Homo sapiens: one gene and its partners. The gene in region 2 interacts genetically with the main gene of each other region. Each region holds a gene or a part of one and is shown on either strand. Other genes may lie near its edges.

What was found.
Region 1: changes in EED (region 2) and ARL5B together harm fitness more than expected from each alone (negative genetic interaction), as found in Homo sapiens cells (one large-scale study listed by BioGRID).
Region 3: changes in EED (region 2) and HDAC8 together harm fitness more than expected from each alone (negative genetic interaction), as found in Homo sapiens cells (one large-scale study listed by BioGRID).
Region 4: changes in EED (region 2) and MTF2 together harm fitness less than expected from each alone (positive genetic interaction), as found in Homo sapiens cells (one large-scale study listed by BioGRID).

The regions. Positions count from the first base shown.
Region 1 is NC_000010.11:18,672,931-18,676,430, forward strand, and holds part of ARL5B (ADP-ribosylation factor-like protein 5B), read left to right. Parts: intron 1-1,053; coding exon 1,054-1,205; intron 1,206-2,237; coding exon 2,238-2,286; 3' UTR 2,287-3,500.
Region 2 is NC_000011.10:86,258,253-86,261,752, reverse strand, and holds part of EED (polycomb protein EED), read right to left. Parts: intron 1-3,500. UniProt on the Homo sapiens protein: Polycomb group (PcG) protein. Component of the PRC2/EED-EZH2 complex, which methylates 'Lys-9' and 'Lys-27' of histone H3, leading to transcriptional repression of the affected target gene.
Region 3 is NC_000023.11:72,461,344-72,464,843, reverse strand, and holds part of HDAC8 (histone deacetylase 8), read left to right. Parts: intron 1-112; coding exon 113-285; intron 286-2,741; coding exon of another isoform or gene 2,742-2,745; coding exon 2,746-2,840; exon of another isoform or gene 2,841-3,500. UniProt on the Homo sapiens protein: Histone deacetylase that catalyzes the deacetylation of lysine residues on the N-terminal part of the core histones (H2A, H2B, H3 and H4).
Region 4 is NC_000001.11:93,113,783-93,117,282, reverse strand, and holds part of MTF2 (metal-response element-binding transcription factor 2), read right to left. Parts: intron 2,596-3,500; coding exon 2,500-2,595; intron 2,296-2,499; coding exon 2,195-2,295; intron 1,814-2,194; coding exon 1,665-1,813; intron 1-1,664. UniProt on the Homo sapiens protein: Polycomb group (PcG) protein that specifically binds histone H3 trimethylated at 'Lys-36' (H3K36me3) and recruits the PRC2 complex, thus enhancing PRC2 H3K27me3 methylation activity.

The DNA of each region.
Region 1 (3,500 bases), on a different chromosome or scaffold from region 2:
AAATTTTTCAAAGCTAAAGTTACTTAAGCATGCCTTTAAAAGTCTGATAAATTGAGATAAGCAAAAGGAAAACTTAAGGGTCTTTTCCCCAAAAGTTTCAATAACTGAAAGGTTTTTTTTTTGTTTTTTGTTTTTGTTTTTGTTTTTTTTGAGACGGAGTCTTGCTCTGTTGCCCAGGCTGGAGTACCGTGGCGCGATCTTGGCTCACTGCAACCTCCGCCTCCTGGGTTCAAGCAGTTCTCTGCCTCAGCCTCCCGAGTAGCTGGGATTACAGGAACCCGCCACCACGCCTGGTTAATTTTTGTATTTTTAGTAGAGACAGGATTTCACCATCTTCGCCAGCCTGGCCTTGAATTCCTGATGTCGTTATCCGCCTGCCTCAGCCTCCCAAAGTGCTGGGATTACAGGTGTGAGCCACTGTGCCTGGCCTGTATTCCATGTTTTTCAAACTTATACTATATAATATATATCTTTCTGAATCTTGCTCTTTTTGTACAACATTGTGACTTATCCATGATAATATATTCTGATTATCCATCTTAATATGTACTGCTTTCGTTCATTCCTTTTAACAACTGTATAGTTTTCCACAGTATGAGTATATCACAATCTATTCTTCTAATGTTTTCATAGTATAAACAATGCTGAAATGAATATTAACCAATGACCTTATGTTATACAAAGACTAGTAAGTAATAAGTATTGCCCAGCTCCCACCACCAGTACTCTTAAGTTTTGGATAAACTCTAGTATTTGGCAACATACTACCATATTTGCCTATTAGAATATTAATTATGTATTTTTGAGTCAGTATTTAAAATTCAGGTGTATTTTTTTTTTTCAGTTTGACCAGTTCGACTCAAAAATAAAAAATAATTATTTAATATTAATCTGTTGGAATGAATAATGAAATTACGGGTATTTGAGATTATTTTTATGTTAAATACTAGTGCCCGATTATGTTAAAGTAGAAGCACTTCATTATAACTGTTCAGCTGGGTAAATTTAAATTGTGGTATTTCACATATTAGAAATATTTTGTCTTGATTGCAGGATTTACGGAAGGCTGCAGTCCTTATCTTTGCAAATAAACAGGATATGAAAGGGTGTATGACAGCAGCTGAAATCTCGAAATACCTCACCCTTAGTTCAATTAAGGATCATCCATGGCACATTCAATCCTGCTGTGCTCTCACAGGAGAAGGGTAAGTTCATCCGTCTGAGGGGAGGTATGACTTCTTTCAAATTTCTTCCAACTTTTTAGGCCAACTTGTTTTCTTCATGGGTCCTGTTCCTTTTCTGTTTGTTTGTTCTTAATTAAAGGTGACTTTTATAATGTGTCTCAGGCTTACAACCTAGAAATAATTCTAGTAAAATCACTGGCAACTTAAAAACTTTTAATGTAAATATAATGTTTTACCAAAAAGCAATAAACTATTGAATTGAGTTTTCATAATCCAAATTTTTTTCTTTGTTGCCTTTATCATATACTGAGAAAAAAACTGTAATGTCACCTTTCTTTTAAAAAGGAAGCTTGAAAGAAATTTCACATTTTCTGCAAGGACTTAAACCTGAGCTCTCAGCTTTCTGCAAGAGTATGTCTTCTTTATTATTAGGAGGTCTTTTGGGAGGCATATTTCCAGACAATAAACAGTTGAGACAAATGCCACATGGTCTATTCTTCCATCTCTAACAATTTGAATGTGGGTATTAGGCCAAGAAGAACCGAATGTTATTTAAGTATTATCCTGTTTATATCAGAGAACTTATCCTCAAATCAACCTCACCTTCTTAGTTTTTCTCTTAGTATTTATCAGAAATAGCTTGCAGTAATAGCTGTGTGTAGGCCTTTTTGACTCATACTTTTAAGACTGAGTCTAAGTATTCCATTCTTTAGAATTGAGGAGGATAAGGTGAAGTTGCTATTGACTTTCTCCAGTCGTTAAGTTTCAGTTAATTTTAAAAGGCGGGGAGTATTTGCACTCTTCATGGCAAAACTGGCAAAGTTGTATCTTCAAGATGAGACTGAAGCAATTTCCCACAAACTGATTAAGAATATTTAAGAGAACATTCCATTTAAAAATTTCACTTATTATAGTGTGACTTGAATGTTGACACTGATGTATATAAATAATGATTGTGCTACCAGCCTTTGGTTAAGACCTAAAAATAATAAGTACGCTTTCAGTTTTTAAGTATAAGGTTTTTAATTAAAAATACTTCTATCTTTTGTTTAGGTTATGCCAAGGTCTAGAGTGGATGACCTCCCGGATTGGTGTGAGATAACTTTTTTGCTTGAAAGAGACTGCTCTATTTATTCTGTGACATGAACATTTTTTCCTAGTACCTTTGGCTGCTAAGGCAGCAGCATGTTTAATTTATAACAACACAAACCTCTGAGAGCAACACTTGAATCAAGTGCAGCTGAACTGGAACATAAAAGATTTTTTCTTAACTTTTTTTTTTTAACACACTAATCTTCAGTTGGATGAATGTAATGTATAACTATGTTTTCAGCAACAATTCTTCTGTTTATTCTAATTAATCAGTGACTGCCTTGTAAGAAATGTTTGTCATATGCGTGATGTCTTCTGAAATATTCTTATAACCTTAATGACCAATTGCTTTCAATTCTTGACCAGCACTCCCTCCCAACCAGAGAATTACTGGTTTGATAGAGTAGTCTTGGAAACCATCAGGTACTGCCTGCAGACTTCTCCAGCACTAAATATATTTGTTCCCTCTATAAACCATTCATCTTTCGGACAGAACTTACTGTAAAGAAAGAAATCTGCCTAGAGGATATATGTAAGGAAGATTCCACATCATGAGTACTTGCCTTTTAACTTTCCCCCACATTACTGTTGAGTCATGGAATAATGTTTAAGTTGTTATTTGCATGGAAATTAAGTAGGCTGTTTATTTATCTAAAGGAATCAAGTCCACTCTTCTGCCTGCAACATTTGTTCAAAAACTAACCAAGGTAAAATATTTATTTGAAAGCCCAACTTTGATGTTAAATATTCTTGAATAAATCTGTTATTTTAAGAATATCACATTATTCAATGCATATAAAACTATCAGAAGTTAGTAAATCATACCAGCACTAAAAATAAGACAATTGGAATATATTTTAGCATCAGTTTACAAACAACTTTATTATCAACAGAAATTTTAGCTCTTTTCTTTGCAAGATATATCACAGCTGCTTTGGGCAGTAGCTGAAGCCGAAGTATGAACAGTCCATTTTGTTTCTTAAAATTTGAAGTCGTGTCTGTCATAGCATTTTTACTACCAGCAGTATGTTACTTAAAAAACTACATGGCTTTCCTTGAATTTATTTGACGGTATTATGTAATAGACTTGAAACAATTGCCATCTTTGTAGTTATGCCTTGGGTTCTAAAATGTTATAGGAAACTGCTGAATTGAATCCTAGCTTTTAGAATATTAATAGGAGACTCAAAGTTAATATTCTTAACAACTTAAAATTAAAAAAAG
Region 2 (3,500 bases):
GCCATAGCTTCTGAAGGTACAAGCAGCAAATCTTGGCAGTGTCCATGTGGTGTTAAGTCTGCAGATGCAGAGAATGCAGGAACTGTGGAGGCACGGCTTCCTCTCTAGATTTCAAAAGACATCACAAAGAGCCTGGGGCTCCAGGCAGAAACTTTTCAGAAGGGCAGAGCCACACAGCAGTTCCTACTACAGCAACACCTGGTGGAGCCATGGGGAAAAAGCCATCCCCCAAATCCCAGAACTGCTGAGCTACCAGGGCACACCACCAGCCTGCAAGAGCTGCAGGCACCCGACTCCAACTCATAAGATGCTATGTGGGCTGCACGTGGCAAACCCATAAAGATGGGGCTGCCCAAGGCCTCTGGGGCCCAAACTCCACACCCAGCATGCCCAGAAGGCAAAACATGGAGCCAAGGAAGATTATTCTGGTGCCTTGGATTTAATCTTGTTTGTTCTGTTGAGTTTTGGATTTACTTGGGACCAGTTACCCTTATTCTTGCCTATCTCTCCTTTTTGGAAGGGACTGTCTATCCTATGCTTATCCTACCACTGTATTTTGAAAATAGATAAGATGCCTGATTTCCCAGACCCACAGATGGAGAATTTACCTCAGCAGGAATCCTGCCTTGAGTCTCACCCATATCTGATTGAGGATTTGAATTTTGGGGGCTAGAGGCAGAATGCTACAGCTTAAATGAACCCCCGAAAAAGCAGGTTGGGAAACTTAATCCCAATGCAGCAGTGTTGGGAGATGAGACCTAATGAGAAGCGTTAGGTCATGAGAGTACCACTCTTATGAATGAATTAATTCCAATTATATATTAAAAAAAAAAAAGGCTTCAAGTTCAATTTCTTGTTCTTACTTTCTAATGCCAGGTTAAAGTGGACTAAGACAGTAAGTTCAGAAATATTCATGTGGTCTGAAAAATATTTTAAGCATATTTATCTCAAATAACTTTCTTTAAATAACCTAATTTGATGGAAATATACTTTTGAAATAAAATACAGATTTGACATAAGCAATTTTATCCCACAGAACAAGATACTAGCTTTTCCCTTCACCATACTCACATTAAAAAATTGAAAGGGGACTGAGATTTATGATTTTTACAGTAAGCTGAAAACATAACTACATATATCATGCACAATTTTATAGAATGACAGTCCCTCTTCAAAAATTATGCAGCTATAATTTGAGCAATGTTATATTAAACATTAATAAAGAATGTACAGCAGTAGCTCACACCTGTAATCCCAGCACTTTGGGAGGCCAAGGTGTGAGGATCTTTTGAGGCCAGGAGTTTGAGACCAGGTTGGACAACATAATGAAACCGTATCTCTACAAAAAATTTTTAAAAATTAGCCAGGCATGGTGGTGTGCACATGTAGTCCCAGCTACTCAGAAGGATGAGGTGGGAACATTGCTTGAGGCCAGGAGCTCAAGCTACAGTGAGCTGTGATCACATCACTCTACTATAGCCTGGTTGACAGAGTGAGATCCTGTCTCTAAAACAGTATTTAAAAAAAAGAAAGAATGTAAAGCAAAGACACGTCATGTAAGCTTGAAATATAACAATGTTCATTCTGTCTGTGAATATAAATGCATCACATAAACACCCCAGAGGTAGTAATACATGTGAAAATTAACAGTGCTGTAAAAATGATTCCTTGATTTCAATTTTGTACAAGCTTTTGTATGGACATGTTATTTCTGTTGGGGATACATATGTACACCCCCACCCACACAACCCTAGGATATACATACATATGTAAACATCTAGGATTAGTGACTCTGTAACATTTTGAGGAACTGCCAGATTGTTTTTCAAAGTAGTTACATTTTACATTCCCACCAGCAGTGTCTGAGAGGGCTCTGATTTCTTCTTGTGCCAGTCAATACTTGTTAGTATCTAACGTTTTTATTACAGCCACCCTAAGTAGGTGTGAAGTGGTATTTCATTATGGTTTTGATTTGTATTTCCTTAATGATTAATATGTTAAACATCTTTTCATGTGCTCAGTGGCCATCTGTGTATGCTCTGTGAAGAAATGTCATTCAGAACTTTTGGCCATTTTTAAATTGGGCTGTCTTTTTATTGTTGAGCTATAAAAATTCTTGATACACGTCCCTTATTAGCTGGGAATCATGGCTCATGCCTGTAATCCCAGCAGTTTAGGAGGCCAAGGTAGGAGGACTGCTTGAGGCCAGGAGTTTGAGGACCAGTCTAGGTAACACAGGGAGACCTCATCTCTACAAAAACATTTTTTACAAAATTAGCCAGGTATGGCGGCACGTGCCTGTAGTCCTAACTACTTGGTAGGTTGAGGCTACAGTGAGCCATGATCACACCACTGCACTCAACCTGGGTGACTGGGCAAGACCCTGTCTCCAAAAACAAAAAATAAAAATCAAAGTCCTTTATCAGAATGATTTATAAATATTTTTTCTCCTTTTGAGTAGGCTTTTTTACTTTCTTGATAGTATCACTTGGAGCAAAATTCTTATTCATGCTCAAACTTCTGATTTTTAAAAATGCTCTTACTGACACAATAGAGGAAGACCAGGGTTAAAAGTTGTGATGTTGGGCTGTGCGCAGTGGCTCACGCCTATAATCCCAGCACTTTGGGAGGCCGATGCGGGTGGACCACCTGAGGTCAGGAGTTTGAGACCAGCCTGGCCAACATGGAGAAACCTCATCTCTACTAAAAATAAAAAAAATTAGCCAGGCATGGTGGAGGGCGCCTGTAATCCCAGCTACTCGGGAGGGTCAGGCAGGAGAATCACCTGAACCCAGGAGGCAGAGGTTGCAGTGAGCCGAGATAGAGCCATTGCACTCCAGCCTGGGCGCCAAAGCAAGACTCTGTCTCAAAAATAAATAAATAAATAAATAAATAGAGGCAGGACGCAGTGGCTCACACCTGTAATCTCAGCACTTTAGGAGGCTGAGACAGGCGGATCAACTGAGGTCAGGAGTTCAAGACCAGCCTGACCCATGTGGAGAAACCGTATCTCTACTAAAAATACAAAAATTAGCCGGGCATGGTGGTACATGCCTGTAATCCCAGCTACTCGAGAGGCTGAGGCAGGAGAATCTCTTAAACCCGGGAGGCAGAGGTTGCAGTCAGCCGAGATTGCACCATTGCGCTCCAGCCTCCGCAACAAGAGCGAAACTTTGTCTCAAAAAAAAAAAAAAAAACCAAAAAACAAAGAAAAGAGAAAAAAAAAGTTGTAATATTTAGAACAAGTGAGGCATTACGGTCTATACAGTTGTTCAGAAATATCTGAGCCCCAATTAGTGTTATCAAGAGACAAGAAAAAGTAATCAACTCTTCCTAGAGGTAGTGATTTCCAAAATGCAATGCTTTCCCTTTATGGGAATATTTCAAATAACTTATCCTGAAAAACGTAGCATTTTTAAGAAATTCTATAGGAAATCCTTTATAAAACAAAAGCTTTTTTAAAAAATAAAAAAGCAATATGAATTTTCATATGTAGTATT
Region 3 (3,500 bases), on a different chromosome or scaffold from region 2:
TTTTTTTCCCTTAACTATTTGCTAATTCAATTATACCTCCAACTTGCCCTACCACCACCACTACCCCTAGACCAAACTGACCTATATTTTGTATCCTTTCTATTTTATATAGTGTACTAAAGGAAGTATACCAAGCCTTTAATCCCAAAGCAGTGGTCTTACAGCTGGGAGCTGACACAATAGCTGGGGATCCCATGTGCTCCTTTAACATGACTCCAGTGGGAATTGGCAAGTGTCTTAAGTACATCCTTCAATGGCAGTTGGCAACACTCATTTTGGGAGGAGGTGAGTATAAAGGAAGGTTACCAGAATTTGTTGACCTTCCTCCACATTTTGTCCATTGGCACTGAACTTGGAAAACTTGGCTTTCTTGCATTGGATAATACCAACCTACCTGAGGCCCAGAAGCCTGAGTCAATAAAATCTGCCACCTCCACAGTTCAGAATAAGAAAATACTCTGACACACTTCTCAGCTTAGCATGTGCATTGACTTCTTGGCACTCTAAAGTCTAAATTTCAATTCCTGAAGCAAAGATCCTCTGGTTAAAGGTTACCTCGAATCTTAAAAATAGAGGATGTTAACCCCGGTAGACTTTGATCCACCTTCTCTCAGTGTAGTCTTTGATTTTCAGTTCTAATAATCATCTTTTGGGAACATGTCACTGAAATTCCAACTCTACTTGTATGTAAGTAGTAAACACACAGATTAATTAAATAAGCTGAATTCAAGAATGCCTCTTCCCCCAAAAAGCATGGATTTGTTACAGTGAAGCAAAATTGAGAGATCTATAGTCTCTTGGGCATTCTTGCCTTTGGTGTGTGCTGATTATTTGTATTACTTAGCCAAAAGAAAGCCCGGTCTATTCAATAGTAGCATTTAAACATTTGAGAAAAGAACTTGTCACAACATCTACCACCTTTAAAGATGCCTTGCTTAAAATCTTCTGTCTACCTACCTGGCACAATCTTTATTTCATTGGATGAATAGATTGGTGTGTTAAAATAACATGGTCAAGCAGATTGAGCTTAAAATGCATATATTATAGAAGAGCTAATTGTTGGTTGTTTTGTCAACCTGTTAGAGGAAATTGTGGGGAGGCCTTATTAAATGAGTGGGCATTCAACACAAGTACACAAGCCTTGTCCTTTGGCAGCCTCAAACTCTAGAAGGCTCAAAATTAAAGGTACTTACAAGAGACAACCTCTTATGAAAAGCTGGCAAGAAATATATTAACTTCAACTGAAGAAAAAGATAAAATTGATAAGTACTGTGTGACATATTACTTTTCTTGACAGCACTAAGGATGGTGATTATGATACAGGTACAGCTAAGGAGGGGGAAGAGACCTTTCTACCATATACATCAGGTTAGAACCTGACTTTTGTTTGAGGCTATAATCTTTACATTAAAAGCCTGTTAGCATTCTCTAAAGCCTTTTTGTTTTCTCAGCCCAAAGTTTTGACATTTGAATATATAAGTCTTCTTAGGAAATATGTGTATTCCTGAAAACGCTTGTGCATAAATGGAATTTTTGCAAATCAAATCATATTGTATATGTACCAGAGATAGTTTACTACCTAAGCAAAACCTATAGTGACCTTTTTTTGAAATTAAATACTCATGCCGAATAAGTCTATCTTATAAAGTCAGATTTTTCCGTGTCAGGAGTATTTAAAGTAATACCTGTACTATCTAACTGAAATTCTCAGCCCTATTAACACACAATTCGTAGAGGGAGCCACATCCCCAAGCTTCAGTGGACCCCATTGAGACCTAAAAGACATAGTCAAAGCATCCGTGACCTTTCAAATAGTAGAAAAGCTTAAGAAAAGAGTGACCATATGTCCGAGTTTATACATGTTATCCCAGTGTAATGATTAATAGTGCCCTCTTTTACTTTTAAAAGTATACCATTTTGTATGATAATTTATATGGTCACCCTATCTAAAATAGACCAGATTCTGTTTCCCTTAGGCTGCGTTGAGATTAGGAAATCATTCCATTTTACCCTTATACTCTTAGAATTTAGCTAAAGGCCAATGTTCTAATGCTTGCATGGCAGAGCACATCTATTCAGCACAAAAATGTGCTGATTATTAGCCAGTATAATATGGCCGTTGGGTGACTGTGACAGGACCTGACGAGATGGGTCAGAGCATCCATCAACGGTCCCTTCCTCATCTCACTCTCTTTGATCTCTGCCACCAGGCCTATGTTTTGTGGCAAAAAGGAATGCTGACATCAAAAGAAGGAAGTCTGTTTTTGTCAGCATTTTCCTTTTCTCTTTCCTGGGTTTTTAGGGCTAGATCTGCCAATAGTTTTAAAAATACAAATCACATTCAGCAGTCATTTTATAGAATTGTTGCAAAATTCATCACAGAAATCTTTCCATTGGGTAGATCACCTCAAGAGATCTGGATTCCAGAGATCTGAGTCTTGCTGATGGCTCTTGATGGAACTGAGGAGTTTGGATTCCTCAGGTACATATTTTTGGGGAGATGGGAGCCTATTTAATCTTTGCAGACCTTGGACTGCCCAGTTTTACACTGTGCATGATTTGACTGGTCCACCAAAGTCTGCCTACTAGGTGGTTTAAAAATATCACAAAGGGGGGATTAGGGGAAATTCTGCAATTTGAGGTTGTCTTTTCTTAAAACATTTTTCTCTCTTTCCTTACCCCCCTTCCCTCTCCTGCTGTTTTATGACTATTCTTTCCTAACTTCACAATTCTTGATGGAGACAGGAGGCTATAACCTTGCCAACACGGCTCGATGCTGGACATACTTGACCGGGGTCATCCTAGGGAAAACACTATCCTCTGAGATCCCAGATCATGAGGTAAGTAAGGCTCTGACAAGTCCTCTCTTCTTTAAGGGGAAGAGCTGAGTCATTCCACCTAATCAAAATCACGTCCTCACCACTCAATACCGTTTTGTTGAGAGACACTTCAATAACAATAACACACTGTCTTGGCAGAATAGTGGACTCTTGTTCCAAAATATCCAAGACCTTCTGCCTTTTTGTTTTTTTACAAGAGATCTCAAAGGCCAACCAACTTTAATTTCTCAATTAATTACAGAGACTGTGGGAAGGGGTCACCTGTTCACACAAAGAATTCTTTGGAATATGTGCATATTTTTATCCCCTAGCCTCAAAAAGGAAGGGGCTATTTTTAAAATGTGTAAGCTGGATTCTCATCTTTTTTTTAAGAAGTTTCATAGGTGGTACGTGGCACATGTTCTTTGGTGGTAGTCCTGATCTCTCAATTTTCTTTGACTAATGTAAAATTCAAGAAACCCACAAGCACTACAAAGACCATTGCTGATGTTTTTCTAGCAATTAGTGGCACACAGAGGCTGGAATAGGACCATCCAAAATGTGAAACGTCATTTGAGCCCTTGCCATTTTCTTTAGTCATACAAGATGGGCTTTATGTTTTCCAAAGCAAAGATGTCTGTTCTAGTTTTCCCAAAACAAGTTCATGGAAAGCTGTCTGGG
Region 4 (3,500 bases), on a different chromosome or scaffold from region 2:
TACAGGTACACACCACCACACCCAGCTAGTATGTGGTTTTGATATGGTTATCTTTATTTGAAAATAATAAAAGGCACCATTTCCAAACTTTGATACGGTTATCTTTATCGGAAAATAATAAAAGGCACCATTTCCAAACAGAGCTATACCTTGATTCAGTCTATTAGCACTATTTTTCTAGGTTCATGTGCTCACCTTATGTCTCTGTGTCACATTTTGGAAATTCCCATAATATTTCAAACTTTTTCATTATTATTAATATTGTATCTTTCATGGTGATCAGTGATCTTTGATGTTACTACTATAACTATTTTGGGCCACCAAAAACCGTGCCCACCTAAGATGGCAAACTTAATCACTAAATGTTGCATGTGTTCTGACTACTATCAACCAGCCAGTCCCCATCCCTCTCCCTCTCCTCAAGCTTCCTATTCCCTGAGACACAATATTGAAATTAGGCTAATTAATAATCTTACAGTGGGGGCCAGGCGTGGTGATCATGCTTGTATTTCCAGCACTTTGGGAGGCCAAAGCAGGAGAATCACTTGAGGCCAAGAGTTGGAGACCAACGTGGACAAATAGCAAGACTCCATTTCCACAAAAAAACTTAAAAAACTAGCAGGGTGTGGTGGCGCATGCCTGTGGTCCTACCTACTCAGGAGGCTGAGATGGGAGGATTGCTTGAGCCCAGTTCAATGCTGGAGTGAGCTATAACCATGCCACTGCACTCCAGCCGAGGCAACAGAGCAAGAACCTGTCTCAAAAAAAAAAAAAAAAAAAATCTTACAATGGCCTCTAAGTGTTCAAATGAAAGGAAGAGTCACAAGTCTCTAAATTTAAATCAAACGTTAGGAAGGTATGTCAAAAGCCAAGATAGGCCAAAAGCTAGGCCTCTTGCACCAAACAGCTGGCCAAACTGTATATGCAAAGAAAAAGTTCTGGAAGAAAATAAAAATGCTACTCCAGGCCAGCATGGCTCAGGCCTGTAAACCCAGCCAGCTTTGGGAGGCCAAGGTAGCAAGAACCTGTCTTTACAAAAAAAAAAATACTTTTTAAAATTAGCCAGGTGTAGTGGCACGTGTCTGTGGTCCTAGCTACTTCGGAGGCTGAGACAGGAGGATAACTTGAGCCCAGAAGTTCAGTGCTGCAGTGAGCTATGATCATGTCACTGCACTACAATCTGTGCCCTATCACTTTAAGAAAGAAATGAAAATACGTAGAAGAAAGCAGTAATCTATCTGTGAAAAAGTTCCATGTTGATTTTATGTCTTAAAAAACTTGTCTTTTACTCTCCCATTTAAATTATAATATTAAATATACCAGTTTCTAAATGGTCAATCACATTAAATATGACATCCAATGAAACTACTGATACTGGGCCCCTGCAGTAAATGTTTTCCCTCAATAGTTAATTTTATGACAATATTTATAATTCACTTTAAATTTCCAGAATATAAGACTTATACAAATATTTTAATGTGTGGATATGATCAAAAACTAGATGAAAATTATTTTTTTATGAAAATAATAGATTTTCCCCCTGGTTTTCTTCACTGATGTGTTCATGCAGTTGCAATTCACCATCACTCACACACCATAATCAAGAAAAATAGATAAGTAAATAAAAATTACTTAAAGGGAATTACATAACTGTATTTACTTACTCTCCAGGGCCTCCACAATAGCAGTAACACTGCTGGACATTGGTTTTATGACCTGCATCCCATTCAAGGTCTGCCACACTATAGGGTAATGTCTGCTTCATGACTTGCAATGCTTTGGCATTTGGTCCTTTCTTAAGTGCACCACCCCTCTACATTAGAGGGAAAAAAATGTGAAAGAGTGAAGGCTAAAATTTTAAACACAATTCTATACTTTAAAAACGACTCTGACACTTCTGGAGAAATTTCCTTTCCAAACTTTTACCATATCACAAACTGTCTGATTAATAATAATCTCTATTTTTCTTTTCTTCTTTCAAATTACTGCACCAATTCCCGTATTACTATCATCAAATAAGTGAAAGCATCATTAAAAAGTCACTTAAGCATCATTAGTCAAATAAATAGCACCTCTTTCTACCCAGCATTCATTGCTCATTTCATTCCAACAAACTTTCAGTGTACACAATCATTATGTTGATAATGTCTTACAAATTCCATCAGAGCTTTAGCCCAAAACACTTAAAATATACCTTTGTTGTTGTTGCAAAAACACACTGCCGACAGAGCCATTTTTCATCTGAATCAATCACACTGGAATCAATATGAGGTGTGTGACACAACTGATGATATCCTTAATATCAAAAAAAGCATAAAGCAAATTCGGTTTCATTAATACTTTCAACACAATTTCAAGAATGCATTTTAGCATTATTTCCTACATTAATATAATTAATAAAAAGGATAATTTCAAATTATCAATGTAAAGTATTTTTAGTCATTAATCTTCAACATAGTCATTCAGTATGTAACAAGATTAAAAGAAATCAATGGTTACCTTGGCCACACTTGTCACATATAACCATTTCATTGGGAGCTTCTGAATACTCTTCTTGACATATTGTACAGACCATTTCCCCACTTCCAGTGGCTCCTAAAATATTTAAAACACATTAAAAAAGAGAGTCATAAAAAATTCCATAAAACAAAACCACTTTTATGACTCAGTGAGCAGCACATATGCGCAATGTTTGCTAAGTACATCATAATGCTTCACAAGACAAAGTACACGAATGGTATCTCTCTGCTCTCTGTGTTCTTTCTACCTTTAACTTAACATGCCTACTTTCATAATTTAATCTGCTTTTTGGCAGAAGGCATAATTTAAATTGCTCTTGAGCATCTTCCCTTATTACTCATTTCTCATATTCCCACTCTTAAAGGTGAAGGTGGAGATGAGGGATGGGCGACAGCAGATAGAGAAGGTTTGTGAACACTAGAGCTACTTTATAGAATACTTATCTATTCATGTACATACATTCACTTATCCTACACCACTAATACCATGAAATTAAAGAAAAAAAGTAAGGAAGATAAGTAAACTACCTCTTTCTCGCTCAATTCAGAGCATTTCCTTTTACTTACTAATTTATTAAACAGGTTGAACACCAATTATTTAATCTCTAGCTTCTGAAATCTGAAAATATGGTATCCAATAATGTACCCTAACAAAATATCATTTCAACAAAATTTGGGGGTCCCAAAATTATTAATTTTTTTTAGCAGAACAAGTGAAGCATTTCTTCCTGAGACATTTTTATTCTCAAAAAAAAAAAATCACACAAAATTTCTAATACAATTTACCACCCTAACACATTATCATTTCCAGTATTCTCATCTTGTCTGTTTCAGCAGAGTCAAATTCACAATACACAGCCTTTATATACATAACAACAATAAAAACTTATAATTTTGTGCTATGGGCCAAGCACTGTGTAGGATCTTGATATATTTTGTTTAATTCTACAACTAACTTATAAATATACTATTTATAGAGAA